Regions from separate parts of the Homo sapiens genome. Here regions 2 and 3 are each linked to region 1. Evidence: fine-mapped expression QTL. A gene starts in region 1. Each other region holds a variant in brackets. All regions are shown on one strand. Distances are between the middles of the regions. Region 1 holds the start of C5orf22 (chromosome 5 open reading frame 22). Region 2 has its middle 34 kb from the start of C5orf22. Region 3 overlaps DROSHA (drosha ribonuclease III).

The links.
Region 2: its variant is fine-mapped to the expression of C5orf22 in tibial nerve (GTEx, PIP 0.93).
Region 3: its variant is fine-mapped to the expression of C5orf22 in adrenal gland (GTEx, PIP above 0.99). The same link has a PIP of 0.9 or more in cerebellar hemisphere.

What each region holds. Positions count from the first base shown.
Region 1 is chr5:31,526,819-31,537,395 of GRCh38, forward strand. It overlaps C5orf22 (chromosome 5 open reading frame 22), which reads left to right and starts at 5,483. Exons shown (of 9, transcript NM_018356.3): 1 at 5,483-5,655; 2 at 7,454-7,599; 3 at 8,926-9,075. The coding sequence starts at 5,575. It overlaps DROSHA (drosha ribonuclease III), which reads right to left and starts at 5,275. Exons shown (of 36, transcript NM_001382508.1): 1 at 5,172-5,275; 2 at 4,632-4,707; 3 at 3,980-4,106; 4 at 2,222-2,287; 5 at 1-94. The coding sequence starts at 2,241. RefSeq lists enhancers at 5,355-5,524, 5,555-5,604, 5,655-5,704.
Region 2 is chr5:31,560,726-31,571,302 of GRCh38, forward strand. No RefSeq gene overlaps it. Among named protein-coding and RNA genes, the nearest start is that of C5orf22, 34 kb to the left of the region's middle. The variant C/T (reference allele first, on the strand shown) is at 4,692.
Region 3 is chr5:31,478,889-31,489,465 of GRCh38, forward strand. DROSHA (drosha ribonuclease III) reads right to left here. Exons shown (of 36, transcript NM_001382508.1): 14 at 7,603-7,674; 15 at 5,993-6,074; 16 at 4,666-4,740. Among named protein-coding and RNA genes, the nearest start is that of DROSHA, 48 kb to the right of the region's middle. The variant A/ATGTG (reference allele first, on the strand shown) is at 5,617.

The sequences.
Region 1 (10,577 bases):
ATTTTGGGGCCTAAAGGATGGTGCTGAGGGTCTGGCTCCATGTCCTCCTCGTCCTCGGGGACACCCTCGTCCCGGGTGGAACGACATTCTGTGACTTCATGGCAGAAAAGAAAAAGGGAAAAGTTTTTTTAAAAAATAATTCTTACTATGTAAACAGGGTTTCATAAATGCCTGACCATCTTGATGAGCAACTCAAAGACCCCCTAGTCAAGCCACTGGAATAGGCCACCCATTTAATACTGGGTTCCTGCTAACATCTGAAACCCTCATGCTCAATAAACTCCTCTTCCCCTTTCTTGGCCACCCAGCCCACTGCCATGTTTAGTCCCTGGACCGACCATTCCTTAAAGCTGCTCCACTTCCAAAATGACCAATTCAACATCCCATTGTTCACCATTTGCTGTCATGCCTTTGCTCAAGTTCCCCTCTGATCTTGACCTCACAAGATCAAGGGGGCTTGCCTCCCCAGCCCCCACTCCCATCTCCAAATGCAGATTTGGGATTACCACCCCCCCTCTGCAATCCTCCACCTCTCCCTGATACCAGACCCTTCACATCAGCATTTGAAAGTGCTCAGGTCTATTCCAACATAAAGTACTTTCCTTGGCCTCCAGGTCTCCCTTGACTTTGCCCCTTCTTTGTCCTCCCCTTTACAGTCAAATGACCTGAAAACGTTGCTACAGACCGAATGTTTGTGTCCATCCCAAAATTCCTGCTGATGAAATCATAACGCTGATGTGATGCTATATGGAAGTGGGGACTCTGAGAGGTAATTATGATGGGATTAGTACCCTTATGAAGAGAGAAAGAGAAAAGAAATCCCTGCCACCCACCCCTTACCAGGTGAGACTACAACAAGAAGGCAGCCACCTGCAAGGCAGGAGGAGGGCATGCATCAGAAACCTGGCTGTGCTGGTACCCTGATCTCAGACTGCCAGCCTCCAGAACTGTGAGAAATAAATGTTTACTGTTTAAGTTACCCAGTCTATAGCATTTAGTCATGGCAGCCCAAGCTAAGACAAAAGTGTATATACTTCTAACTCACTCTAATCCGACTTCAGCTTCCACCACCTCTCCAATAAGTGACATGATCAGTGCCCACCTTGTCTTGAAAACCAAAGGTCATTTTCAATCACCTTGCTTGATCTCTGTGCAGCAATCAGTCCAGTTGCCTCCCCAGCCCCCACCCCCATGGATGCGTTTCTTGGCTTCCTGACATGATGCCTTCACTGTGGCCTTCCTACTTCTCTGGCTGTTCCTCCTGGCAGTCTCCCATACCAGCTTCTTCTCTGCTAGGGGGCCTTTAACCGTCTGGTATTCCTCAGGGGTCTAGCCCAGGCACTCTGCTCACTCTCTCTTCCAAAGTGATGCTACTCACCTGCACTGCTTCAATTGACATCAATCTGTCAGAAACTCCCAAGTTACACCTTTAGCCCACAACTTCTGAGCTCCAGACCCACACTGCCAATTACCAACCCCATCTCTCTCCTTGAGTGTCTCACTGACCTGGACCAACAAATTCAACATAACATATGCTAAAAGGAATTAATGACCTTGCCCTCCAAGACAAACATTTGCTCTTTTCCTAGTATTTCCTATCTCAATAAATGACACCATTAATAGTCCTTAAGACATGTAACAGGGAATCATCTGACTTGTCCTCCCTCACCCCCCATCCTTAGCTAAAAATTTACTTTAAAATTGCTGTCACTTATATGGCAACTATCCCTTAATAAAAAATAAACAAAAAATCCAATTGTTTCTGCTTCATAAATATTTCCTGAATTCATCTACTTCACATCATCACCTCTTACATGGCTATTATAATAATATCCTTGCTGGCCTTTCTACAACCACTGTCACTGACCCTAGGGCTTTGTTAGGTTCCTTGCTCTCACAACACTCTGTGCTGCTTCTTAGCAGGTCCTACAATAATTACAATCCACCTTCTAAGGACCTAATTCCACCTTTAATGTCTGCCTGCACCTCGGAACTGCAAGCGCTGTCAGGGCAGCGCTCTGGGATTTCTATTAACTGTTCTGGTCTGGCTTCCCAGCCCTGGGCATGGCCCTCTATTGTATTGTGCCCACTGTTGAAAGAATGAGCACATTATCCCCTCTCCCCATGTATCTAAATCCTTTCCACCCTCTATAGCCCAGCACCAATGTCTGCTCCTCTCTCGGTTCTCCCAAACTATTGCCATTCCCATCACGGCACTCACCATGTGTTTCCCTGCATCATGATGTTCCGCCTGGATATGTCACATCTTCCACAGAGAATATAAGCTCTAAAAAACAGAAAGAATAAAACAGACATAAACATGTTTCCCAAACTGCCAATGCTACAAAATATTTCTGCAATTACCATAACACTAATTTTGTAGTTTCCAATACACTTAGCCTACAAACAAAATTAAAAGCATGTTGAACTGTGTTAAAGTTTCCAACTAAATTTTTAATGTCCTTAAATTTTAAAATGTCATTATTACTAGTTTTGCCAACTCAAAACTATCAGCAGCTAAAAAGACTTATAGGCATAGATCATCTCTAATTTGTTAAAAGACTTGGGAAAAATATCATTTCCCCTCTCCCCCTTCATACTCTCGTTTCCTTCATGGTAAAAACAGGTAGGCATAGGCCGGGCATGGTAGTTCACGCCTGTAATCCCAGCACTTTGGGAGGTCGAGGCAGGTGGATCACGAGGGCAGGAGGTGGAGACCATCCTGGCTAACACAGTGAAATCCTGTCTCTACTAAAAATACAAAAACTTAGCCGGGCGTGGTGGTGGGCGCCTGTAGTCCCAGCTACTCGGGAGGCTGAGGCAGGAGAATGACATGAACCTGGGAGGCAGAGCTTGCAGTGAGCCGAGATGGCGCCACTGCATTCCAGCCTGGGCGACAGTCTCAAAAAAACAAACAAAAAAAAAAAAACAAAAAAAAAAACAAACCATGTAGGCATAGACCAAACACAAAAATCACAGTGAGACCAGCATTCAAATTCAAACATAACCAGAATCTTGTTAACACACCAGTTAATGATTCTTAATTTTCATTCTCAGTTCCTCCCACATAAAAACACTGTAAACATGAATGATTTTCCAAATACTTGAACTTCAGCAAAACATTTTTTAAAAACTCACATAAATATTGAGTACAAAAAGCTGTAACATAGAAACATTTTCTGAAAGTCTTTCTAAAAGTCTCATCAATAGAACTTTACTATGTAGACTTTCAAATGGCTCATGAAAATAATTTCAGATTATGCTAGCAGTCAGTGTGCTTAATAAATAATAGGCACCAAATAATATCTGATTTTTTTTTTAAGACACAAAGTCTACTCTGTCCCTAAGCTGGAGTGCAGTGGTGCAATCATAGCTCACTGCTGTCTCTTACTCCTGGGCTCAAGCAATCCTCTCACCTCAGCCTCCAAAATAGCTGGAACTACAGGCGTGAGTCACTGCGCCTGACTCCTTATTACTATTATCCAGTCCAGTACCCTCATGATAAACCTGGGGCCCGGACAGGTGCTCCTGCCACCATAGGCTACTCACTGCCAACAGAATCAAGTTCAACCTCTGTGCTTGGCATTTAAGGCTCTATTGACTCTGGACCCAGGCTTGTTCTCCAGTACCTTCCCCAGAAAGACCCTACTACCCCATGTTTTCCCAACAGATTACCATTCGAGTACAAAGAACCAGCTAGTTCTTTGCTCCCGTTCTCCTCTCTAAAATCTCCCACCCTAGGCAGAGGTTGCAGTGAGTTCAGATCGCGCCATTGCACTCCAGCCTGGGCAACAAGAGCGAAACTCTAGCTCAAAAAAAAAAAAAAAAAAAAATCTCCCAACGTATGAATCTGCCCAGTGATTTTCTATCCATCTATCAATCTTAAATGCCACCTCCTCTATGAAGCCCTTCCTGATTCCCTTAGGTAATCCCATTCCCTCTAGACTTAGTCTATACTTAATCCTTTTACAGCACTTACCAGAGACTGCCTCATATCATAGTGAAGTATGCACACGTCTAACTCTTCCACTAGATTATCAGCTCCTTGATGATATGGGTTGATTCACAGTCATTTCTGTATCCTTCACATCCCCGGGAAAAGCAACCTACACACAGTAGGTGGTCAATAAATGTTTACTCTCTCACCAATAGTATGTTTCCATGTTGCTACTGTACATTTCCCTTCCATGTACCTCCGCAACAGAAAGCAGGCCTTTTCACTGAGTCATGCAATATTTAATGAGCCCATAAATGGGAAGCACTGTCCCAGGCCCTGTAGACTCAGAGATAATAAGACACACAGCCTGTAGGATTCAAGGAACTCAGAACCCACGTACAAGTAAGTGTTTTAAAAATACAAAATAATGCAATAAACACACAAAAAAGAGGTATGTGCAGGGCTTAGGGGAACACAAAGGTGTGTGCCGCACCTAGAGGTGGGCAAAAGTCAGGGTCACGAACACTCTTGTACAGTGTGTAACAAGAGCTGAACATTCACTGCCAGATCCTCATGGATGTTTCAGTAGTTAGAAAATCTAAAAATACTAATCATGAAATTGACCTATTGAAGGCATAGTCCGGCTGTGTTGTGGATGCAGACTTTAATTCAAAAGTCAAGGAATTCACTGCACCTGGAAAAGTAACTCTCTTTTCTCCGTCTGTCTCTTCTCGGTTGCGGTTTGGAAACAGAGACACTGAAGGAGCTGTCTTGAATAGTTAACACGGCCAGAACGTCAGTGCATGTAAAAAGAATTTTAAAGTGTGACTACATTTTTATTGAGAACTCCCTCTTTCCCCAGGTGGATCTGCAGGGCAGTCACCTTCATCCTGATCCATAACTGCACATTTACTGTTTGCATCTCCCGCCAGACGGTACGCCCCACGAGGCAGGCGCTGAGCTCAGGATCTCACTCCCCTCCGAGAGCCGGGCGGCCCCAGGCCTGGACCATAGTGTGTGCTCCACAAATGAATGAAAGGTCTCCTTTTTCACTTCCACTTATTTGCGGGATCCAGGCCTAGCGTCGCTCTTTTGCCCTTAGCTGCAGATCTGAAGTGGGGCTGCCCGACCCCAATTCCCGGACGCTTTTCACCCCAGCCCCGGAGACTCCAGCCCCGTTTAAATCCTGACACTCGGAAACTCTCTTCTAACACTTGCAAGGTACCCCTTTTACCTATAAAAGGCTCTCGGGCCGCGAGATCGCCGTCAGAGCAAAGCCAGGCTACTACCGCAGGTACCAAGACAGTGGCACCGCCCGCGCCTCCGGAACAGGAAACCGAGGGAATTAAAAAGCAAACCTGAGAAAGCTGGGCCAAGGGAGGGAAAACTCTTCAGCCCACCGCAGGGCCTTGTGCGCGGTGATTGGCGCGTCAACGAAAGCGATGGACGTCTAGACCAATCGTCAGCAAAAGACCCTTTGGAGCCCGCGCCCCCTCCCCCTACGTCCTCCAATCCGAAAACGCAACCGGGTGAGGGAGCGCTTCCGCCCGGAGAGAGCTGGCCGGGATGAGGCGCCGGCTTTCCCGGGTCTTCTCCAGCTGCCACCGCTTTACTGCAAAACTGACGGGCGCAAAAACATGAGTGACTCCGCGGGAGGGCGCGCTGGTCTCCGGCGTTACCCCAAGCTCCCAGTGTGGGTGGTGGAGGATCATCAGGAGGTGAGCGGACGGCAACAGGGCTCTGGGGCAGAATCAGCGGAAGCCCTGACGCTCAGAGGGCCAAGCAGAGGGCGCAACCTTAGCATCGGAGGCCAGAGAGTTAACCAGAGTTAAACTGCCCTATTCCGTTGCTGTGGAGAGGACCCCAAAACAGCTAACTAGGAAGAATGAGAACTGACATTTATGGGCGCTTCCTACGAGTCGGGGCAACTTATTTACCTCGGTTTGCCCCCAAATCCCAGAACCAAACAAAAGGTGGCATCGGGATTCGAAACCGGACAGTCTGGCTGCAGAGCCCTGTGTTCTTAACCTGCAGTTAACTCTGGCTTCCAAGTATCTCCTGGAATCGCCACCACAGCCCTGCTGTTTAGATGGGAGGCTTTATGCTTGGAACGTGGGCTCTGATCTGAAATGGGGACAGTAATCGTAGGACTCACAGGGCTCTTAGGAGTATTATTGTGTGCATACTGTGTTTAAAAATCTTTTTTTTTTCTTTTTTGAGACGGAGTCTCTCTCTGTTACCCAGACTGGAGTGCAGTGGCGCGATCTCGGCTCACTGCAACCTCCGCCTCCTGGGTTCGAGCGATTCTTCTGTCTCAGCCTCCTGAGTAGCTGGGATCACAGGCACGCATCACCGTACCCAGCTAATTTTTGTATTTTTAGTAGAGACGGGGCTTCGCCACGTTAGCCAGGATGGTCTGAAAGTCTGACCTCACGTGATCGGCCCCCGCCGGCCTCCCAAAGTGCTGGGATTGCAGGCGTGAGCTACTGCGCACGGCCCATATTGCGTAAAAAAAAAAAAAAATTTAACACGGTGCCCTGCATAGATAAACACTAAAAGGGGTTTCCATGTTTATGGCCGTGCTGATTTACAGTAGCCAAATTGGTGTCTTAATCTAGACTTTTCCAAGTCAACAAAGGAGGCCCATGGATCTAATAAATATGTTTTAAAGTAGCATCAGTAGGCTTGGGATGGGAGGCAGTTCTCTGGACGTTAAAAAAGAAGAGGGATTTACTGTTGGTGACAGCTAATAGGAGAGGAAGATAGGTTTCTCAGGACCTGGATATAGTGTCTATGACCTTGAGAGAATGAGAAAGCCTAGGTTAGACGGTGCTTTCAAATTAGGTATTAAACCTAGAATTAGAGAAGATGTAAGAGGAGAAATGGCCTTTATAGACCACCTAGCCCAACCCCACCATTCTAAGTGTACCAAAAAGACCCTAACCAGCCTGGACAGCAGAGCGAAATCCCATCTCTACAAAAATAGAAGTGAAAAAATTAGCTGGGCGTAGTGGTGCGTGCCTGTAATCCCAGCTACTCAGGAGACTGAGGTGGGAGGATCGTGTGAACCCAGGAGTCCAAGGCTGCAGTGAGCCATGATCACACCACTGCTTTCCAGGCTGGGCAACTGACAAGCCCCTATCCCTTTTTAAAGGAAAAAAAAGAATACTTTGAGACCTAGGGTACCTTGAACACCTAGTTAATGTTAGAACAGGCATTAAGCGGTAGTTTGTTCCTGAGCCCCAGTCCTGGTCTGTTTCCCCACATGACCTGTTGAGTTCAAGGGGGCAGCAGGAAGGCCGCTGGAGATGCAGGTTGGAAGTTCTGAGGACAAAGTAATGCTTGAGATTATCATCTGCACCATCTACAGTAAACAAATTTTATGTTTTTCCACTTTACAGCAACATAGTATGCTTTCAATTATGTGCATTATTTAGCATTGTTTTTCAGTCTGCAGTTGAGTGTGTGCTCATGGTTTCAGTGTTAATTCTTATTGTGTGCCTGTGTCTTTTACAGGTTCTACCCTTTATATACCGGGCCATAGGCTCAAAGCATCTTCCTGCCAGTAATGTAAGTTTTTTACATTTCGACTCACATCCAGACCTCCTTATTCCTGTGAATATGCCAGCAGACACCGTGTTTGATAAGGAAACACTCTTTGGGTAATATGTGATTTTATTTATGGTCTTTTGTGTTTGAAGTACAATTTGCAGTAGATAATAAGCAATTATAGGAAATAGACTTTGCTAAACTCATGGGTTTGGGGGTTTTTTGTTTGTCTTTTTGTCTTTTTCATTTTATTTAGAACAAGTGTTGACAACTTTCTTAAAGAGCCAGATTAGCAAATATTTTAGGTTTGCTGGCTATATGGTCTCTGTTGCAACTATTAATCTTTGCCTTTGTAGTGTGAAAGCAATCACAAGCACTGTGTAAACAAATGACAGTAGCTGTGTTCCAATAAAGCTTTATTTACAAGCTGGGCATGGTGGATGAGCCTGTAGTCCCAGCTACTCAGGAAGCTAAGGTGGGAAGATCACTTGAGGCCAGCAGTTCCAGGCTGTGATCAAAGCCTGTGGATAGCTGCTGCACTCCAGACTGGGCAACATAACCAGACCCCATCTCTTAAAAGAAACAAACCAAAAAAACTTTGTTTACAAAAACAGCCTAGCCAATGTTTAATCCTTTTAATATTTGCCTTTATAGAGACCATTGGATTCTCACGTCTATTTCTGCATTTAGTCCATTGCCATATGCTGTTTTGGTTGAAATATATGATGAAGATTCAGGCTTTCACAGGCATGTAATTGGAAAAGGAAAGAATATTTTGATAGCCTTTTTAGATAATTGTGAATATTCTTTGATAGTGCGCCAAAACTTGAAAAGTAGTAGTTTATTAAAGCTTATTTGAAATGTAGAATTCAGCAATTCAGTATCAAGTGTGAATAACCATAGTTTCTTGACCACTCCTTTCAAGATAAATGGTGTTCACCTCAAAGTTCAATCACAAGTGCTTTTCCTTGAGACAACTGTTATGCTTCAAACTATGTAGCAGGAGAGCTTTCTGTGCATTTCTCATTTTGCCACACATAATATTTAAAAATGTATACTCAGGATGGAAATTTAATAAAATCAAGATGTTCTCGAATGACACTTTTATATTTATTTATTTATTTATTTTGGCAGTGGTTGGTAATGAAGAATATAGTAACTACTAACAGTTTGGTGCTGCTGCCTTAATTAATGTTGGAACATCAACCCACCAGTGCCTTTGCACCATCTTTGCAAATGTCAGTAAATGAAAACAGGAAATAATGCCTTAGTATTTTCATGAAAATAGTTTTGTAATAGTGATGTCCCTGAAAAAGTCTCAGGAACCACTCTAGGGACCACACTTTGAGACCTGTGGTCTTAAAATGTTGTGGATAAAATTACACTTGGGAAAAAATAAAAATAAAAGTTTTAATGTTGTCTCTATGTTTCTTTTCCAGAGAATTAAGTATTGAAAATTGGATTATGCCTGCAGTTTATGCTGGCCATTTTTCACATGTAATATGGTTTCATCCCACATGGGCTCAGCAGATCAGAGAGGGCAGACACCACTTTTTAGTAGGCAAAGACACTTCTACCACAACAATCAGGTAATTTCCTCATATTTGTGAATATGGAAGTGATTGAATGTTTCTATCTTATTTTGGATTCCTATAATAACTTCATAAGTCTCTGCACACAAATAGGGTCAGATTAAGCCTCGACTTCTCCAAAGAGTTCTCAAAACACGAAGAACAAACTTTTAAGTCTCTTGATATTCTTCATGTACCATTTATATTTAGTTGCTGGTCAAATTAGATTTTGAATGTGATCATTATCCTCCGGAATTTGGGCTTCATTGGTGATTAACTCCTTAAGCCATTGAAGTATCTTATAGATTTATACATTCAGTAGTACATTTTACTGTTTCCTGTCAGTATAACTGTTGTCTGCTGAATTTGCCGCAGTGGCTCACGCCTGTAATCCCAGCACTTTGGGAGGCCGAGGTGGGCAGAAGACGAGGTCAAGAGATCGAGATCATCCTGGCTAACATGGTGAAACACCGTCTCTACTAAAAATACAAAAACAAATTAGCCGGGCGTGGTGGCAGGCGCCTGTAGTCCCAGCTACTCAGGAGGCTGAGGCAGGAGAATGGCGTGAACCCAGGAGACAGAGCTTGCAGTGAGCTGAGATCGTGCCACTGTACTCCAGCCTGGGCAACAGAGTGAGACTCTGTCTCAAAAACAAAACAAAAAACAAACAAACAAAAAAACAGTAATTAGCAGTGAAAGGGCAAAATTATCTCACTTTGATTTTTTTATAAATCCAACTGCTGAATAAGTAGATTTGGGGCTTTAATTTTCTTTATAATATAATTAGTTTCAGATAAGTACTTAATCTAAAGTAAATTACAGTATCCTCTGACTTGAGATAAATATGCAACTGTTTTTATTGTATAAGCTATTTAACAATGTTTTGTGTATCTTGTGATACTATAATACTTTCAGAAATATCAATATGTTCTTGACTTTAAAATTCTCTTGTGATGGGATAAATATTTTAAACAGTATAGCCATAACTTTCTAGAACCTTAAGGATAATGGAGTGAAATGGTAATACGTTGAAAATCAGATAGTCTTCCTCATTGAAAATGATACTTTATTTCTAATTTATTCTTAATGATACAATTAACTTTTGTAGTATATAATCTTGTCGTTTGCACAAATAGCTTTGTTGTGATATATGAAAATTGTATTTATTTCAGATATAATTCAAAAGAAATAATTAAGACTCAGCATATAAATATTGTACATACTACTGGTATATGTGAAATAGTAGTAGGGTTTTTATTGAGTACTTCAGTGAGTAGGCCTGATTTAACCTACAAAATCAAATAATTTTCAGCAATCTGACACAGACATTTGAAACTCCACGTGTGATTAACAATTTTGGAAGATTTTGATTCATGACTTTGGTTAATCCTGCAAGTAAAAATGTATGGAAGAGACACATATACATGTTGGTGTGCAGTTTGACAAATACTTGCATGTTTGTATGATAGGAACATGGGAGAACTGCTGTTATTAAAAAGAATATTAATTTAGGTTGGGGG
Region 2 (10,577 bases), 34 kb after region 1:
AATAAAAATGAAGACATGACCATCTATGAAGAGAATAATAGTGCTTATATAAGACGATTCAATATTATAAAGGTGTCACTGCTTCTTATATCAAATTCTAATGTTTATAATTTCCATAAACATACCAAAGGAGGTTTTATTTTAACCAGTGAAGCTGATTCTAACATTCATACGGAAAAATGATCATGCAAGGAGAACCCAAAAAAATTGTGAAAAACGAATGAAGTTATTAACTCCTACTAAGTACTAAAATACATTATGAAACTATGTAAATTAAAACAGCATAGTATGGGCATATGAGCAGAGAAACTGACGAATGAAACAGAATAAGGTCCAGAAATAGACCTATATTAGAGTAAGGACATCTGATTTAATAAAAAGTAACTAATGTCTCATACAAAGTGCAAGTTTATTTCTCATTTTCATGAAGTCCAGAATGTGTTTCTGCTCAGCAGACTTTCCTCTTCACAAGGATTCTGGACTCAGGCTCTTTGCATCTTTGGCTTTCCCATCCTTAACATGTGGTTTTCAAGGTTTTCTTAGAGAATATCTCTAATCCACCTAGCAAGAAGGCAAAGAGGATGGGGCATCTTTTGGGAGGCTTTTATCTGCCAGGCCTATCAGTTCCTAACTGCAGGAAACCTGGGAAACGTAACCGGTTGTATGCCCAGATGGAAGAAAGAGCAGGTTTGGAGAACACCTAGCTTTCTCTCCCACAAGACCCAAGTACATACGGAATTTGGTATACAATCCAGGTGGCATTTTATATCAGTGGGGAAAGATGAGTTAGGAAGTTGCATTCCCAATTTACTCCTTACAACAAATTAATTACAATTGAATCAAATTTTAATAAAGTGAAAAAGAAAAGAAGGAAGGAAACTTTCTAGATCACAGGAGAAAAGGAAAGATTCTTAATAAATAAGCATGCTTGGTTTTTTGTTTGTTTGAGACAAGATTTCACTCTGTCACCCAGGCTGGAGTGGTGTCATCATCACAGCTCACTGCAGCCTCCACCTCCCAGGCTCAAGCAATCCTTGCATCTCGGCCTCCCAAGTAGCTGGGATCGCAGGTGCGTGCCACCACACCCAGCTAATTTTTTTTTTTTTTTTTTTTTTTTGTAGAGATGGGGTCTCACTGTGTTCCCCAAGCTGGTCTCTAACTCCTGGGCTCAACTGAACCTCCCACCTTAGCCTCCTAAAATGCTGGGATTACAGGCATTAACCACCAGAGCCAGCATGTTTTTTTCTTTTCTTTTTTTTTCTTTTGTTTTTTGAAGATTCAAATGAATATGGGATTCAAGATTGTGTAGCATGACCATTCCAGGTTTCACAGTCCTACTGCTTCCCTTTCTGGGCCCTGAAGTTAACATAGGACATCTGCCCTGGCTGTGAATTTGGCATCCGTTGCAGTGCTGACATTTTTATGATTATATTCTGAGTCTAATATGCATCATACTCTGCACTCCTGCAACAAGAGATGAGGATCTAATTAAAGTTGGCCATGAAAGCCTTTGGCTTTCATAGCATGCCCTGAGTTGATAATTGGCTTACCTGCTGTTCTCTGTGCTATTCTCTTCAAGGACTCCAGAAAAGTTTACAAAAGTCAGCCACCTCCACAATCCTTCCCTAGCCGAGTGCTTCCCCTTCTGCCTGTACCTCATCCTAAACAATCATTGGTGAAATTCTTAGTAAACATGCTAAGCCATGGGCTATCACTTCCCCCACTTAGACCAGCAGTGAGGTTCTTGTTGCTCCTGACCGGGGCATGAGCAAATTCTCATATCCCATTCTGAGGGTCTCCTTTATAGGACCAGCTCTAGTACCATCCGTCTTAGTTTAGGTTTCCCCAAAAGCAGACATTAAGGCAAGGATCTGGGTGAATGTAGTTTATTTGAGAGGTGATAGCAAGAAGTGAAGGAGTGGGGAAATGAGATAAGGAAGGTAGCAAAGTGATTAAAGGATGTACTAACAAGATTACTGCTTTAGCCAACAAGAGCTCAATTTCACTAGGATCCCCAGAAGAATTGGCAGGAACATGCTTCAGAATTGCCTGCTGAGACATGGGAATTTTGCACATTTATCCGTTGGTTCTCTTTCCTCTTTGGTTGAGGGTTGTCTCTGAGAAGCTGATAGGCTGTTAATTCCCAGCCACCCTGGGAAGCCCACCCTTGGATGGGCTAAGCAAGTTCCTGTGACACCTCAAAATGACTCAGGAAAAGAAGCAGAAAGATACAGACACATATTGGATGCTGTCAGGATGGGCAGTAACCATCCTCTGCAGGTAAACTTGGAAGGGAGATGGAAATACTGGATGGGACATCTGCAGCATCTGCTATAGCAAGAATTGAGAGGCCATTTCTGTATTCCTTTCTGGCAGTTTTAAACCGAGTGTGTTCCTGAAGGTGTGGGAAAACAAGCATGCTGATATATTATTGTTAAAAATACATATTGGTACAGCCTCCAGAGGGCACTTTGGTGGTAGCTATTAACATTGAAGTATACTGCATACACTTTTAAATTCAGATTTTAGGAATTTCACTTCTAGGAATTTATCCTGCAGATACTTGTGCAAAGACTGACACCACCTTTGCAAAGATTCTGACAATGAGAGAAACGTGACATGCCTGGCTCCGTCTTGCTTCTAGCCTCACAGGCTGTTTTTGCTCATTCCTGAGTGTAGGCCAAGCTAACCATGAGAGGAATTTAGTTTACAGCTTAACTTGGAAGCAAGGATGATAATAGTCCCTCCCTACAACTAACCTCCTCCTTGCTCAGGGACCAAAAACTAATGAAAGGCCACGAAATTAGCATTATGGGAGGGGACAGAATTCTGCTAAAATGTGGGCATAGTTTTTATAATCCCCTACTGCTCAGGAGTCGTGTGGCCAGAGGTCACAAGGTTTGTGACTTCCTCAATTGCTCCTATAGATAACAACACTATTGTAGAACCCAAGACTGGCTTTTTTTTTTTTTTTTTTTTGAGATGGAGCGAGCTCTGTCGCCTAGGCTGAAGTACAGTAGCACAATCTCAGCTCACTGCAACCTCCACCTCCTAGGTTCAAGCAATTCTCCTGCCTTAGCCTCCCAAGTAGCTGGGATTACAGGTACCTGCTACCACACCCAACTAATTTTTATATTTTTAGTAGAAATGGAGTTTCATCATATTGGCCAGGCTGGTCTCGAACTCCTGACCTCAGGTGATCCACCTGCCTCAGCCTCCCAAAGTGCTAAGATTACAGGCATGAGCCACTGCACCCGGCCCCAAGACTGGTCTTTTGAGATGCTTTTCAGACTTTTGCATTCTGGCAACTGACCCCATCCAGACTCGTGACCTATGACTCAACCAGTCCTGTGGCCCCACACCCAGAAGAAGGCTCAGTGCAAAAGGACCATTTTCCACACCCCTATGATTGCATCCCCAACCAATCAGTAGCATCCATTCCCTAGTTCCCTGCCCATCAAAGTATCTCTCAAAAACCCTAATCTTCAAGCCTTTGAGGACACCGATTTGAGTGATAACTCCAGTTCTTCTGCTTAGCTGCATTAGTCTGGTCTCACATTGCTATGAAGAAATACCCAAGACTGGGTAGTTTATAAAGAAAAGAGGTTTAATTGACTCACAGTTCTGCATGACTGGGAAGGCCTCAGTAAACTTACAATCATAGTGGAAGACAAAGGGGAAGAAAGGCACCTTTTTCAAAGGGCGGCAGGAAGAAGTACCAAGAAAAGGGGCGGAAGCCCCTTATAAAACCATCAGGTCTTGTGAGAACTCACTCACTATCACAAGAACAGCATGGGGGTAACAGCCCCCATGATTCAATTACCTCCCACTGGGTCCCTCCCACAACACGTGGGGATGATGGGAACTACAATTCAAGATGAGATTTGGGTGGGGACACAGCCAAGCTATGTCATTCTGCCCCTGGCCCCTCCTAAATCTCATCTCCTCACATTTCAAAACACAATTATGCAGCCGGGCACGGTGGCTCATATCTGTAATCCCAGCATTTTGGGAGGCCAAGGCAGGTGGATCACCTGAGGTCAGGAGTTCAAGACCAGCCTGGCTAAATGGTGAAACCCCATTTCTACTAAAAATACAAAAATCAGCTGGGTGTGGTGGCACATGCCTGTAATCCCAGCTACTCAGGAGGCTGAGGCAGGAGAATTGCTTGAACCCAAGAGGTGGAGTTTGCAGTGAGCCAAGACTGCACCACTGCACTCCAGCCCGGGTGACAGAGGGAAACTCTGTCTCAAACACACACACACACACATACACACACACACACACACACACACAATTATGCCTTTCCAACAGTCCCCCAAAGTCTTAGCTCATTCCAGCATTAACCCAAAAATCCAAGTTCAAAGTCTCACCCAAGACAAGGCAAGTCCCTTCCACCTTTGAGCCTGTAAAATTGAAAACAAGTTAATTACTTCCTAGATAAAATGGGGGTACAGGCATTGGGTAAATATACCCATTCCAAATGGGATAAATTGTCCAAAACAAAGGGGCTACAGGCCCCATGCAAGTCTGAAATCCAACGAGGCAGTAATTAAAGCTCTGAAAAAATCTCCTTTGACTCCATGTCTCCTATCCAGGTCATGCTGATGCAAGAGGTGGGCTCCCATGGCCTTGGGCAGCTCTGTCCCTGTGGCTTTGCAGAGTACAGCTCCCCTCCTGGCTGCTTTCAT[C/T]GGCTGGCATTGATTATCTGTGGCTTTTCCAGGTGCTCAGTACAAGCTGTTGGTGGATCTACCACTCTGGGGTCTGGAAGACAGTGGCCCTCTTCTCTCAGCTCCAGTAGGCAGTGCTCCAGTGGGGACTCTGTGTTGGGGAGCCAACCCCACATTTCCTTTCTGCACTGCCCTAGCAGAGGTTCTCCATGGAGGCTCCATCCCTGCAGCAAACTTCTGCCTGGATATCCAGGCATTTCCATACATCCTCTGAAATCTAGGCAGAGGTTCCTAAACCTCAATTTTTGACTTCTGTGCACCCGCAGGCCCAACACCACATGTAAGCCACCAAGGCTTGGGGCTTGCACCCTCCAAAGCAATGGCATGAGCTGTACATTGGCCCCTTTTAGCCACAGCTGGAGCTAAAGCAGCTGGGATGCAGGGCACCATGTCCTGAGGCTACACAGAGCAGGGGGGCCCTGGCCCAGGCCTACAACACAATTTTTCCCTCCTAGGCCGCTGGGCCTGTGATGAGAGGGCTGCCACAAAGATCTCTGACCTGCCCTGGAGACATTTCCTGCATTGTCTTTGCTATTAACATTCAGCTCCTCATTACTTATGCAAATTTCTGCAGCCTGCTTGAATTTCTCCCCAGAAAATGTGTTTTTCTTCTCTATCGCATCTTCAGGCTGCAAACTTTCCAAACTTTTATGCTCTGTTTCCTCTTGAATGTTTTGCTGCTTAGAAATTTCTTCTATCAGATACCCTAAATTATCTCTCTCAAGTTCAAAGTTCCACAGATCTCTAGGGTAGGGGCAAAATGCCACCAGTCTCTTTGCCAAAGCATAGCAAGAGTCACCTTTGCTGCAGTTCCCAATAAGTTCATCATCTCTATCTGAGACCACCTCAGCCTGGACTTCATTGTCCACATCACTATCAACATTTTGGTCAAAACCATTCAACAAGTCTAGGAAGTTCCAAACTTACCCACATTTTCCTGTCTTCTGAGCCCTCCAAACTGTTCCAACCTCTGCCTGTTACCCAGTTCCAAATTCACTTCCCCATTTTTGAGTATCTTTATAGCAGCACCCTACTCTCTTCTGTATTAGTCCATTCTCACACTGCTATGAAGAAATACTTGAGACTGCGTAATTTATAAAGAAAAGAAGTTTAATTGGCTCACAGTTCCGCATGGCTGGGAAGGCCTCAGGAAACTTACAACCATGGTGGAAGGCGATAGAGGAGAAGGCACCTTCTTCACAGGGCAGCAGGATGGAGAAGTGCTGAGCAAAAGGGGAAAAGCCCCTTATAAAACCATCAGATTTCATGAGAACTCACTCACTATCATGAGAACAGCATGAGGGTAATCACCTCCATGTTTCAATACCTCCCACTGGGTCCCTCCCATGATATGTGGGGATTATGGGAACTACAATTCAAGATGAGATTTGGGTGGAGACACAGGCAAACCATATCATTGGCCTTGCATTAAACTTTCTTTACTGCAGTACCACAGTCTCAGTGAATTGCATTTGTCTGTGCAGCAGGCAGGAAGAACCCATCAGGCAATTGCAAGACTTTTATACAAGGATTTTCATTGTGACAGTAAAAGACTGGGGAGGAAGGTCTTTCAACAGGGACTGGTTAAGTTATCAGACATCCATATGGTGGTACCCTTACCACCACAGAAGGGGGCTCCTCTCTGTGTACTGATATTGAAAATTCCACCAGGAGGAAGAGAAAATATAAAATGATTAATAGTATATACAGGATGCCACTATGTATTTTCTTTTTCTTTTTTTTTCTTTTTTGTGTGTTCTAGGAGGCAAGGATGTATTTTATTTTTCTTATAACTTTTCTGTCATTCCTAGGGATTTGAGATAAGAGGGGGAGGCTCCAGGGTATGATTAATCTACCACATGATAGATTATGAAACTAATATGATGAAAACTTACAAATAACAACAAAGTTCAACAAGGTGGCTTAGATAGCAGATGGACATTCATAAATTAGTAGTTTTGTGATACACCAGTGATATGGTTTGGCTGTGTCCCCACCCAAATCGCATCTCGAATTGTAGTTCCCATAATCCCCGTGTGTCATAGGAGGGACCCAGGTAGTTGTCATAGGAGGTAATTGAATCATGGGGGTGGTTATCCTCATGCTGTTCTTATGATAGTGAGTTCTCATGAGATCTGATGGTAAGGGGCTTAAGAGTGCCCTTTGCTCAGCACTCACTCTGTCCTGTCATCCTGTAAAGAAGGTGCCTGCTTCTCCTTTGCTTTCTGCCATGATTGTAAGTTTCCCAAGGCCTCCCCAACAATGTGAGACCGTGAGTCAATTAAACCTCTTTCTTTTATAAAATACCCAGTCTCAGGTATTTCTCCATGGCAGTGTGAAAACAGACTAATACAAATAGCAATAGATGGAAAATGTAATGGAAAAGAATTCACAACAGAACCTAAATAATAAATATAGAAGATCTTTACAAGGAAAAATGTAAACTTTATGAGATGTAGAAGAAATCCAAAATTAAGAACATTATTGGTTATAGACGATAAATTTCAGTATTTTAACATGCCAAGCTGGGTGCAGGGGCTCATGCCTATAATCCCAGCACTTTGGGAGGCCAAGGCAGAAGGATCACTTGCGCCCAGGAGTTTGAGACCAGCTTGGGTAACATGGTGAGACCCTTTCTCTACAAAAAATACAAAAATTAGGCCGGGTGTGGTGGCTCACGCCTGTGATCCCAGCATTTTGGGAGGCCGAGGCAGGTGGATCACTTTGAGGTCAGGAATTCAAGACCAGCCTGGCCAACATGGTGAAACCCCATCTCTAATAAAAATACAAAATTAGCTCGGCATGGTGGCACACACCTGTAATCCCAGCTACTCAGGAGGCTGAGGCAAGAGAATCATTTGAAACTGGGTGGCAGAGGTTGCAGTGAGCCAAGATCATGCCATTGCACTCCAGCCTGGGCAACAAGAGTGAAACTCCATCTCAAAAAAAAAAAAAAAATTAGCTGGGTGTGGTGGTGCATGCTTGTAGTCCCAGCTACTGGAGAGCTTGAGGTGGGAGGATCACTTGAACCTGGGTGGTGGAAGTTGCAGTGAGCAGAGATCATGCCACTGTACTCCAGCCTAAGCAAAAGAGAGAGACTGTCCAAAAAAAAAAAAAAAAAAAGCCAGCTCTCTGCAAGTTGATATGTAAAATGTAATCCCCAAAATAACCCAACAGTCTTTAGCATACAATTTGGCTAGCTAATTCAAGAATTCATAAGTAAGGCTAGAAGTGTATGCGTGTATGCATAGCTTAGACAATTTTAGGAGGAAAAAATGGGAGAAACTTGCCCTGGCAGATATCAAAGCATGTGTTTAATATTGTTTAAAATGTCATATTGATGCATGAATAAACAGACAAAATTAATGAAACACAATGAAGACTTCAGAAAAAGGTTTCCACATACATAGGAATTTAATATCTAATAAAGGTTGAAATTTATCAGTGGTGAAAGGCTGGACTACTCAAGAAATAGTATTGGGAGAATTGGCCATGCATTTAGAGAAAAAAAGGTTGGTCTCTAACTCACACTTAATAAAAATCAATTGCATATGGATTATATATCTCAGTAAGATTATAAAAGTATTATATAAAAACATAGGAGACTGTGTTTATGACTCTGGGGCAGAAAAGCCTGAATTAAGGAAAGTTGCAAGGGAAGAGATTTGCATAACCATGTCTAAATTTAAACCTTCTGTAAAAACCTAAAGGCATAAGCAAACTTAAAATATAAGTATTAAAAAAAGTGCAAACTAGAAATAAATATAACATATAACAAAAAATTTTAATTTGGATATATATAAGAATAAGACAACTCAGCAGAAAAATGAACAGACAAGGTGAACTGTCAAGTCACAGAAGAGAAAATATAAATGATCAGTAAACAAAGAAATAAATTTTATTCTCCCTAGTCATGTACAGACATGTAAATTAAAGTAAGATGTAACTTCTCACCATATAACTGGCAAAGCATTAAAAAATGTTGGTAATACTAATCAAGAATGTGGAGAAATGGTACTTTCCTACTAAAACTGGAATAAATTACTTCAGCTTCTCTGAAAAGCAACTTGGCAGTAACTCAAAATAGTAACTATTCTCAGTGACCCAGTGATTCCATTTCTCAGTATCTATCCTATGGAAATACACAAATATGTATTTGAGGTGGCATGCACAAAGATTTTTTTCTGTATAGTTTGTAGTTGAAAAAAAGTGGACAATAACCTGAACATTTACCAATACATAATATAGCAAAGTTTAGAATGTGTTCAATAGCATTGCATTTATGAAAATATAAAGACCTCAAAAACTATATTATATGTTTGTACAGGTACTTACATACACAAGTGTTGGGGCTCAGAAACTGATGCCCCAAAGTATGGTGCTTCGGCATGCTGAGTGCTTTTCACTAAAGGAAAATCAAGGTCTGTCTCCCCTCCTTCCCTCCCGAAGCGCCAGAGTATGGCTTTCTCTGAAGTTGCTCTAGAAGGAATACAATTGTGAGTCCCTCCCTATAATCTCATTGAACAGGGAAGATTAACTCACAGGAAAGGAGCCTAAACACAGGCCTAAAGTATTCTTTCGAAGACTGCTACCTGGAAGACTATCTGCATTACAAGAAAACCTCTGCCAGACATTTTCAACCTTAACCTTCCATAATTTGATGCCACCTCCCCGCCCCTGGAAACCCCAAACTACTATTTCTTTCTGTAGCCCAAAATGCTATTTAAGCTTCAGCCATCTGGTCCTTCTTTGAGTCTCATAGTTTGTGGGACTCCCATGCATATGCACATAATCAATCTGTACGCCTTTTCTCCTGTTGATCTGTCTACTGTCCAATTTATTCCAGAGACTAAAATTATCAAACCTTCAGAGGGTGGAAATAAAGTTCCCTTTGCCCCTGAACATAATTTTATATATATATATATATATATATATATATATATATATATATATACACACACATATATATATACACACACACACACACACATACATACACACACACACACAGACACACACACATATTATTTTATTTTATTTAACTTTATTTTATTTTTTGAGATAGGGTCTTACTCTGTCACCCAGGCTGGAGAGCAGTGGCACGACCTACAGCCTCAACCTCTCTGGGCTCAGGTGATCCTCCCACCTCAGCCTCCCAGATTGCTGGGACTGCAGGGGCAGGCCCCCATCCCTGGCTACTTTTTTATTTCTGTATTTTGTAGAGATGGGGTTTCACCATGTTGCCAGGCTGGTCTTGAAATCTCGGGTTCAAGCATCTGCCCACCTCAGTCTCTGAAAGTGCTGGGGTTACAGGCATGAGCCACGGCACCCATCTTATATACATGTATATATATATTTTTTATTTTAAAGGATATTCACTGTTCAGGGTGATAGCCACTAACTGTATGTAGCTATTTTCATTTACACTCAAATTAATTTAAATTTAATTTAAAATTCAGCTCCTGGTCTCACTAGCCATAATTCAAGTGCTCAGTATCCACACATGGCCTGTGGCCACTGTATTGGGCAGTACAGACATAAAGCCCTTCCAGTATTTCAGAATATTCTATTGAATGCTGATCTCAACTCTTAGTAAAAATCTATAATCTTCCTTATCAAAGAGGGCTCCATAAACCTGGAGCATCAGCATCACCTGAGCACTGGTTAGAAAGACAGAATTGCAAGCCCCTCCCAAACTTACTAAAACCAAAGTCTACATTTCAACAAGATCCTTGGGTAATCTGTATGCACATTAAGGTTTAAAAGCACTGCACTAGCATCATCCTCATGAGCTTTGAGAAGCTCCTTTAGCAGTCGATCCTCTTTTGCACCTGGCGAAGACTTTCC
Region 3 (10,577 bases), 48 kb before region 1:
CTATCTTAACACATAATTTCACTACTAGAACTCTACCTTACAGAAACAAACAAATGCAACAGGATAGACACAGACTATTTCTGAAGCATTTATACAAAATGGGGAAACAATGGAGAACTCCAGAATATTTGTCACCATAGGAATTATAAACAAATTAATGTCCATCCATACTATAAAATGCTAAGTATGCATCAAAGAATGAAGCAAAGCATTTACAGTACAGAGAATGCCTGAAGTATCTGAGTTTAAAAAAAAAAGGAAGTTGTGTAACATATTGTTATTCCACTTGAAGAAAAAAAGCATAATTCTCCTTAAAGCAGTTAAAACAATACAAATCAAGCCATTTACAGCATTTACCCATTTTCACATGTTCAGAAGGAAGTGTTCACTGTTTTTACTTTACATACTTTTGTATTGTTTGTATACACACACATACACACAGAGTCAACTCAATCAAAAGCAAAAGCAACACTTCAATTTTCTAAAGAAAGAAATTGTTCTTTTCAATAAATGGTGCTGGGTCAATTGGATACCCACGTTGAAAATACTGAGTTTTGACCCATATCTCATACGAATTGTGAAAACAAATTCAAGACTGATTACAGCTCTGAAAGTGAAGAAAATATAAGTGAGTATCTTGACTTTAGGGTAGGCGAAAATTTCATAAATATGATACAAAAAGCTCTAATCATAAAGGAATATATATCTATAAATTGGACTACATAAAAATTAAGAATTTCTATTCAACAAAAATCATCAAGAAGATCAAAAAGCAATCTACAGAGAAGGTATTAGATATATATATATTCATGACATTTATATTCATGTTCTATATTCACTATATATAACATATATTCACTATATATCTGTATCTGTATATTTGAATAGCATATGTACGTTCACCAAAGACATGTACGTGTTGTTTAGTGAGCATATATACATATTTTTCTGTTACATATATACCATACCAGGTGGAATTCTGGCTGTGTGTATATTAAGCTTTGTAGACACTTTCAGTTCTCCAAAGTGACTGTACTGTTTTACCTTCTCATTAACAGTGTATGAAAATTCAAGTTATTTCACATTCTCACCACTTGGCATTTATTTTTTCTTTGTCAATTTAGCCATTCTGATGTGTGTTCAGAAGTATCACATTGTGATTTTAATTTGCATTCTCCTAATGACTAATAAAATGGAGCACTATTTCATATATTTATTAGGTACCTAGATAGTGTTTTTTTTAAAGTGCTCATTCAAGTCTTTTGCCCGTTTTTCTATTGGCAATGTCAGTATATATATATATATATATATATATACTGAAAATACTCAAATGTCCATTAATCATAGATAGGTTTATTTTAATTTAGTCATCCCATATAATACTATATAGTAGTGAGAATGAGCCAACTACAGTTAAGTGCAACAGGATATGATTCTGAAATACATTAAACAAAAGACAGAAGCAAAACAGAATATAAAATTCTAGTTTTTATAGTTCAAAAACAGGTAAAACTAATACATGGTGTTTCAAGTCAGAATAGCGGTTACCCTTGAGGGTCTCAGCAGCGACTGGAAAGGGGTCCGAAGGGGGTTCTTGGAAGCTACTAATCTTGATCTGGGTGCTGGGTGGATGGTCATATTCACTTTGTAAAAACTCACTAAGGTCCTATATTCATGATCCATGCACTTTTCAGTATTTATGTTATAGTTCAACCAAAAGTTTACTTTATAAAAATGAGAGATAATACCAAAGACTATTTGAAAAGCACACTCACTAGTAACCAAAAACATGAATACTTAGATAAGGCATTATTATGACCAATTAAATAAAATCAGTAAACAAGCATTTACTGCGTCCCTGCTATGTGCCATGAAGTATGTTAGCACTAGTGATACAACAAGACAGACAAATGTTTACTCTTCAGCCTCATGGAACTCACCACTGAAATTTTTTAAAAGGAAGAAAGAAAGGAGAGAAGGAAGATGGGAAAGGCAAAATGCTAAAAATGAATAATAATGCATTTTTCATGGCAGCACAAACTGATGTTATTCTTTTGACAAGAAATTTGGCACTATATATCACAATCTTTAAAAATATCCATCTGCTCAATGAATTATTAAAAAATAGATGCAAATCATATACTAGTAGATGACAACTACGTAAAAAAAACCCTTCTGCACAGAAAAAAATGAAAATATATATCAAAATGTTTTTTTTTAATTCACCATTTTCTAAAAGATCTTTAACAAAGTCACATTATGAATAACAAATCAACCGTAATTTCCTATCTAATACCAAAATGCATTTTATACATCAGGTATTTTTCTGTATCCTTCGGGGTCTTCTTAGTATGTATATTTTCAAAGGGGAGTCTAATGAAAAGGTAAACCCTGTTTAAAAACAAATCAATAGACCTTTTTCTTTATGACAACCTAAATGTTATCCCCACATAGTTACGTGAGAGTTGAAATCTCACAAAGTAAATATCCAACAGCAGATTTTTCTTTAAGGTGATTTTAAAACTGCCCACTTTCTCTCAGACATCTGTTTGGTCATAAAACGCCTACAGGAAAGTAGATATAGAAAGGAAAAGGCTTTTCAGCAAATTCACTCTAACACCATTTTCTAATAAGTTTACTGTTGAAGCTCCATTCTAAAATCAAAAGATTCATTCACCAGAAGAGAAGAAACGGCATCTCAATAAAACAAAACCAGATATAAAAAGGAGAAAAGCCTTTGAATGCATTTCTAAACAAAATAAACATGAACAGTAATACTAAAAATCTGAGTAATGCTAACCTAAAATAAACTAAGCCATTTTGACTGCCTGGACTGAGGAAAGAGTATCAGGAAAAAATCTTGAGAAAAATCTAAACCAGACAGAGTAGACAAGAAACTAAAGCCACACAAGAGGAGTCAAAGAGACAGGAGGAAAGTAAGGAGCACCCAGGCACCAGAGCAGGGAAGAGACTAACACTGAGGCACATGCTCTGCACTTGGTCTGTAGGAGGCTGCCTCTGGCATCGGCAGCTACAGTGGGCTAGGGACAGTTAGAGAGGGTCTGGCACTGAAGCAAAACTTGGCTGTGAATGGACAAGGGCACTGGAGGAAGCCAGACTCCGACAGGCTCACTGCAGGGCTCTCAGGCATGAGGGAGACAAGGGCTCCTGCCCAAGGGAGACAGGGGCTTCTGCCCATGGGAAGACAGGAGGCATAAGGAGGACAGCACAAACACAGCACTGAAATTCTTTAACTGCTGATATTGGGTGGAAAGGTTACACGAAGAAAAGCTCCCCAACCAAGATTATAGACCACAGATTTATAGCAGCAGCTATGTTTTACTCTTCAGTATTACTGAGTGGCCCATATATAGAAGAAAAGGCAAGCAGTTGGATTGATGACATTAACTCGGAGATGATGGCCATACAGGCAGCTAAGACAGCTAGAACTGACAGGGTAAACATCAGAGCACAGGACCTGGTGGGGAAGGCAAAGGAAAGTAGCCATACATAAGGAGAAGAGGGAAGATCCAAGTAGATGCAAAGGCAATAGGGACATGAGAGGCTAGACTGAAGGATGTCACCAGAAAGTGAGATAATGGAGTCAAATTCTAGGGAGAAATTAATGTAGGTTGGTGGCATGGTCCAAGGTTTTATCTTAAGATTAAGCGGCTGAGTGGTGACAATCCTTACAGTAGAAAAAGTCAAATAATTATATAGCTCAGGGTAGAATGGTAAGTGAAGTTCACCAGGCTGGTAACAGAACCTTGTGGAGAGAGGAAACTGTAAGCCAGGTTTCACAGCATTTGATAAAGCAGGTAATTGACTAGGAAATAAATAAAGAAGGAGTGGGAATAGGGTGCCAGAAGCCTCAAGGAGAAAGATTTGCAAACAAAAAGGCAACCAAAAGATTTCATTAAAAATACTTTTTTTTTTTTTTTAATTTTTAGAGATAGGGCCTTGCCATGTTGCTCAAGCTGGTCTCAAACCCTCACTGGGCTCAAGCGATCCTTCCTTCTCAGCCTCCCAAATAGCTGAGACTATAGGTACATGTCACTAAACTGACTCCAAGCATTTTTAAAAACACTAAATATAATGCCAAATATTACAGGTGGATTCTTTTTAAAAAATTAGAAAACAGTTAAAATATTGCTTTAAAAAACTGTCATATATTTCCCTATATTTTATTGGGAGAAAAAATTATTTTATACCTTTTTTTCACTGTAAAATGAATTCAAGCACATGTCAAAAGATAAGAAAAAATCACTATAATCCTACTACCTTAATGTAACTATTATTACAGTAATTTTTTCAGCAGTTATAATCATATTGCATTTAAATTTTTTTATTGTTTTCCAATTAGCCATATGCATTTTTTAAGCCACAATCATTTCTCCACATTAACACACCCGCATGATATTTTGTCAAGTAGATTTCTAAAATTTATAAATCTGTTCTTCCATTGTTCATCTAATTTGGACTACCATAATTTATGCAGGGATATAAATCCACATGTATAATTTTACATTTCCGTGCCTAACCTGAGAAGTAGATAATTAACAGTATCGAAGGTGGGAAAGTTGTCCCTGAAGACTGAAAGGAAAATGGCAAGCTTATTTTCAGATGCACTATCTCACCAGGTCACTGACAAGCCAGAAGATTTACCTGGAAGAAATCTTACAAAACGTGGCATGAAATGAAATCTTGGGCAGCAGGGAGGGCTGTCTTCAAACAAAGGACCTGAAGCAAACAAATGAGAAAAAAAAAAAAAAAAGAAAACTCAGTCTTAAAAAACAAGCACTGCAACTTAATTTCTAAGATTTATGATAACCACAAAAACTACCACCAGAAGTAGAGGCATAAAAATTACCACCACCTCCTGCCACTCCTCCTCAGTGGCTAAATCAATCATTGGTAACTGCCACAAGCACCCAAGGAAGACTGCAATGAGGAGACTACAGGAAGGCAAGAAGAGGATGAAAGCCCCAAGTAGCAAATACATACAGTAAAATTATTTTTAAAATTCAAAACTATCAAGACTTATTATAATTGAATTACTGCATGATATAATGTGACTATGTGTTCATTCTTTCCCATTTTAATCACTACACTAAAAAAAAAATGTTGAGAAATGCTATCAGTTTGAAAAGCCATTCACCAATAAATAAGTAACTGTTTGCTAGAATACGGATACTTCCAACCGCTGGGCGCAGTGGCTCACGCCTGTAATCCCAGCACTTTGGGAGGCCGAGGCAGGCGGATCACGAGGTCAGGATATCGAGACCAACCTGGCTAACACAGAGAAATCCCGTCTCTACTAAAAATACAAAAAAAAATTAGCCGGGCGTAGTGGTGGGCGCCTGTAGTCCCAGCTACTCGGGAGGCTGAGGCAGGAGAATGGCGTGAACCCGGGAAGCGGAGCTTGCAGTGAGCCGAGATTGCGCCACTGCAGTCCGCAGTCCGGCCTGGGCGACAGAGCGAGACTCCGTCTCAAAAAAAAAAAAAAAAAAAAAAAAAAAAGAATACGGATACTTCCAAAAAAGTAAGCTACTATCCAAGAACCAAGCATCAAGTCTTTGAATCTATCTAGTTCACTCTAAGTGTCTGCGTGTGTGC[A/ATGTG]TGTGTGTGTTTTAATGACTAACCAAAGTTTTGCATCTTAGAAGATTTATTACAGCAAAGTTTACTAGATTTAAAATATTAACTAATGGTAATTTCCCAGGTACACATATATCAAGGTAGCTACACATAATAACTGGTACCATCTTCAAGCCGCTACCAGCTAATAATAAGCCCTGTCAAACTGTATAAAGTAAAATCCATAGAAACTTATTCATGTCAAATGATAACAAGCATTCCTGTGAATAACACTTTTCTCTGGGTATTTAAAAAATAAGAGAAATTTCAACTATCTCCCTACAACTTTTATAAGAGTTTTCACATATACCATAATGTTCTTCCATAAACACTACTCTCTTCTTTAAATCCTATTACTTACCTTTAAGATTCCAGTCATATAATTCCAAAATATCTCTGAATAGGAACAGTGAAAAGAGTTCAAGCCCTTTCACACAAAAATTCTGAAAAATAAACCAAAATTAAATTACTGTAGTTTGGCAAAATATACATTAACTGAAGGTTCAACTTGTTCTTGTCAAGTGTCTTTAAAAGTGTCTGTTAAAACTATACTAAGACCATATAGTTTCCTGAAGAGTTTGGCCACTGATCGCTAGTTTCAGATGGAAATGAAATAGACAATAATGCCACTAGGATTCCTTAATGTCAACTTAGCCCTTCTCAGTATACAAATAAAATAAGAAATTCAAAAAGTAAAGTCTCACTTATATTAATATATTTTTCTAATTCAATTATAAACTGTGTCAGAATCTTCTGAGGATGTTTTGTTAATTCAGATTATACATATGCACCTGATAGGCTTGTCCCCCACCCCCGCCCCATACATCCAGCATAATTGTCATGGAGTTACCAAAAAACAGAGGTCCTGTGTACCCAAAAAGTTCAAAAAGTAATGAATGCAAATAAAGGGCTAAGAAAATTATACAACTCTGCACCAAAATTTCTCCTGTAAACAAGCTAAACAGATATATTTGCAAGTGAGACTTATCTCATAATTCTTCCTCCTACTTGTTTTGCTCGGAGTTCATAAATCACCCTGCGTGAGATCACGCCAGAAGTCATAAACTTTTACAATAGCAAATGAAGGCATATGACCTTAAAAACCAAAAGGAAGTTAAAAAAAAAAAAAAACCCTTCTAAAGCAGGAGAATGAAGGGGTGGTTCTTTTTCTTTAATTCTTTTTGAAAGGAAGGTACAATAAACAACACTTGCTCAGAATGAAACAGGTGCCAACTAGGCACACATGTGATGCCGATCAATTTCCCCCTCCACACTCCCTGCCCATGACAGAGCTGTCCCATTAAACAAGGTTTGCAAGCAGAGCCAGGGGCTCCGGAAATTGACCCTGACTCCAACACAATGTTAAGTGCACAAGCTTGTTTGCTGTCTAGTTGTTATTTCTTAGTATGATTTGTTGACACCACTAAATTCAAGATCAGACTATGAATCATTCTGAGATTCACATTAATCTTCCTTTGGAATTTTAAATCTCTTGCATATATTGAGATAAATCTGCTGTTGAGCACTCGCAATGAAAAACAATTAGGAAAAATATGTAAATATATGGGAAGAAAAATGAACCAAGCATTGATCTTGTCATTGGAGATAACGAATAAGATTATTACAACAGCTATCAGATTGTTTCACTATTCCAATTTCCCCTCTGATAATGGCCAGTAACCAAAATCTGTCCCCTACGTAAAAGAAACTAGAAACAGATGTAAAGTTAATATCAGCAGACGTAACACAAGGAGAAAGGGGTATAAAAACAGGTCAACAAGTTGAAAATTGGCCTGAATTTTAACCTTGATACTAGAGCTACATTTCACTGACTCTTTCAACAGTGAATATGATACTTTAGAGATATTCCTGGCAAAAGCCAGATCTGGCCAAGTTCAATGCTTTAAAATAGTAGTATGGAACAAGCAAAAGAGCAAACTACATCAAACCACACACAATCTTTTCCCTTACCTCCGGCATCATCTCTTCAATGAAATGAATCGTGTAGTCTATGTTGAATCTAATTACTTTACACAGTGGAATCTGCAATAAAAAGAAGTGAGGTTCAGTTCCCCAACGTCTCCCTGCAGGCTCATATTATACACGTTTGTTACCTGACCCAAAAGGCCATGAACCAAATGAGAAGGCTTCACCTTCATCTCAGCGGCTAACAACACTGCACATGAAGCTTGACCACAACTGCTGGATTTTAATGACAAGAACCCAGCTGGCCTGGCCTCGCCAAGAAACCTGCATAATGTGGTGCTTAATTAACAGTATTAGCAGCAGCAACACAAACATGACAAGAACCCATTAAAACCACAAGTATCACCTCTAAAGAATTAATAAAACCATAACCATAAACATTTCTGTTTCTCAAGTTTTTAAAATATTTTAGAATCTCTGGCTCCTTAGGCAGATCAGGGATAGTAGGGTGATAACTCATCAATTATGGATTCATAGGTCACTGAAAACACCCAATTCATGCTGCCCATCTGGCTCTTAAGCAAAGGCAATTGTGGTAATAAATATAATAATAACAAATGATAATAAAAATAATAATAGCTAACATTTTTTGAGCCAGGCAGTGTCCCAAATGCTTCACAATATTCATTCATGTAACCATCACAACATCCCTATAACATGGGTTTGGCTACCATGTCCACTGAACAGTGCAGGAAGCTAAGGCAGAAGAGTCATCAGGTACCATGCCTAAGATAACAGGTAGCTTGGTGAACTGCGAAGTCTTTCTCTAGACTCCAGCTCTTAGCCACTAGAGTATACCCCTCTCATTACCTGTTCTAATACTCAAGATACATGTGAAAATGAAGGAAGGCTCAGCATAAAATAAATCCACATCTATCTTACTTTACCAATGTATCATCAGACAATTGCCTACTGCCTACACATAACAGGTTTTCCGTAAATATATTTTTGAATGAATTAAAGAATGAAAAAGGGAGGGAGATTACTGCAGAGAATTGGCTGGCTAGCTGGGGAAAATAACAGACCCAGAAGTCCCAGAGACGCGTTAACTGAGTTTTTCTGGCTGCTTAATCTGTCCATAAGATGATTTTATACAGATGTAATCATTTTCATAAACCACAGCAATCAGAAAGAAACAAATTTTAATTCTATCAGTGAAAGGGATGGTAAGAAAAACAGAAAAATAGTCTTATAATGCCATCTACTGGAAATCCTTTTCTCAGATACAAAGTTTAGTTCTTGGGGGCTTTTCCTTTTTATTCTAAAGAATAGTGGTTAATTTGAGTGAAATTCATAATAGCCATTATCATTTTTAAGTTCTACTTTGTTCTTATAATCATTTAAAAATATTTAAGAGTTACAAAATTTTGCATGATTCAATGTATTTTTAAAATACCTATTCTTTGCTAACAACTATATTAGGTTCATAGGTACTCTAAAATAAGCTACGGGTCCTATCTTAAGAGGTAAAGATGTGTAAGAAGAAAGGCATGTAAGTAAATACAAAAAGAATACAATGCAATGTAACTTCTAAGTTCAATTAAAAAACAAACAAGCAACAAAAAAAGTATAAAGTATAAAAGAACCAAAGAGGAGGTAACATATGAGTTGTCTTCAAAGATGAGGAGGGGCCGGGCACGGTGGCTTATGCCTGTAATCCTAGCACTTTGGGAGGCTGAGCAGCGTGGATCAACTGAGTTCAGGAGTTCAAGAACAGCCTGGCCAACATGGTGAAACCCCGTCTCTACTAAAAATACAAAAATTAGCTGGGCGTGGTGGCGTCTATAATCCCAGCTACTTGGGAGGCTGAGGCAGAAGAATCACTTGAACCCGGGAGTTGGAGGTTGCAGTGAACCAAGATCATGCCACTTCACTCCAGCCTGGGCAAAAGAGCAAAACTCTATCACCAAAAAAAAAAAAAAAAAAAAAAGATGGGGAGGAATTTTCCAGGTCATCTAGAAAAAGTTGAGGCAGAGCAGGTGTTTAGCTTCTAGAAAAATGGAGGAAAGGGAGCTGAGGAAAGAAGTAGTAATTTCACAGTTCAGATAGAAGTGCGTGGAGAGAGAGAGATGCCAGATGATCTAGAGAGGAAAATATGAACTCTATTATGTAGCCCTTACAAACCATGTTAAGGTCAGGGCTTATGGATATATGGCAACGAGAAATCATTCAAGTACTTTAAGTTACAGATTATCATCATTTACATTTCAGATGAGACACTGTGGAAACAGTGTGGGAATGGCTTGTAAGGGAACAAAGAAGACCAGACTGAAGTCTAATGCAATAGTCCAGGAGCCAAATGAAGGGAAGACTGGAAAGGAAGAGAAAAATTTTAAACACAGGAGATATTACTGAAATATACAGTGACCATTCTGATGTGGGAGGAAGAGTGAAGAAAGAATTGAGGATCATTTCTGGGTTTCTGGCGTAAGTGACCAACTAGGTCACTTAATTCAGGAGGGTGTCCCCTTAGTACCTCAAATTCAATATGCAGGGAAGATGACGAGTCTAGTTTCACACAGGTTGAGGGTAAAGTATCTGAGGAAACATCGAGGAGGTTCATTTCAAAAGGCAATCTAAAATGTGAGAGTGGAGTATTAATACAGAGGTACATGTCACAGCTATTAATATTGATCTGGTGGGGATCAGAATATGCATGGGTGGAAATGAACTACTCAGAGAGTAAACAGGAGAGAAAACAACCAGAGCTGTTGGGAATTCTCAAGAGATAGGCAGAAAGCAAATGTGCAAACTTTCTTCCTTGCTATCATAGGAAAAAGCACTCTGCTAGATGATTTATGCACGTACAGTCCTTTCTCCATTTCATTTTAAGTAAAATCACTTCTTGGAATTCCTTCTCTGACCTCTTCTCTTTGTATATACTTTATTTTCTTTTGGGCTTCCATCCATACCACCAGAGCCCTTCTCAGACACACAAATTTGGAAAGGCAGGATCTCCT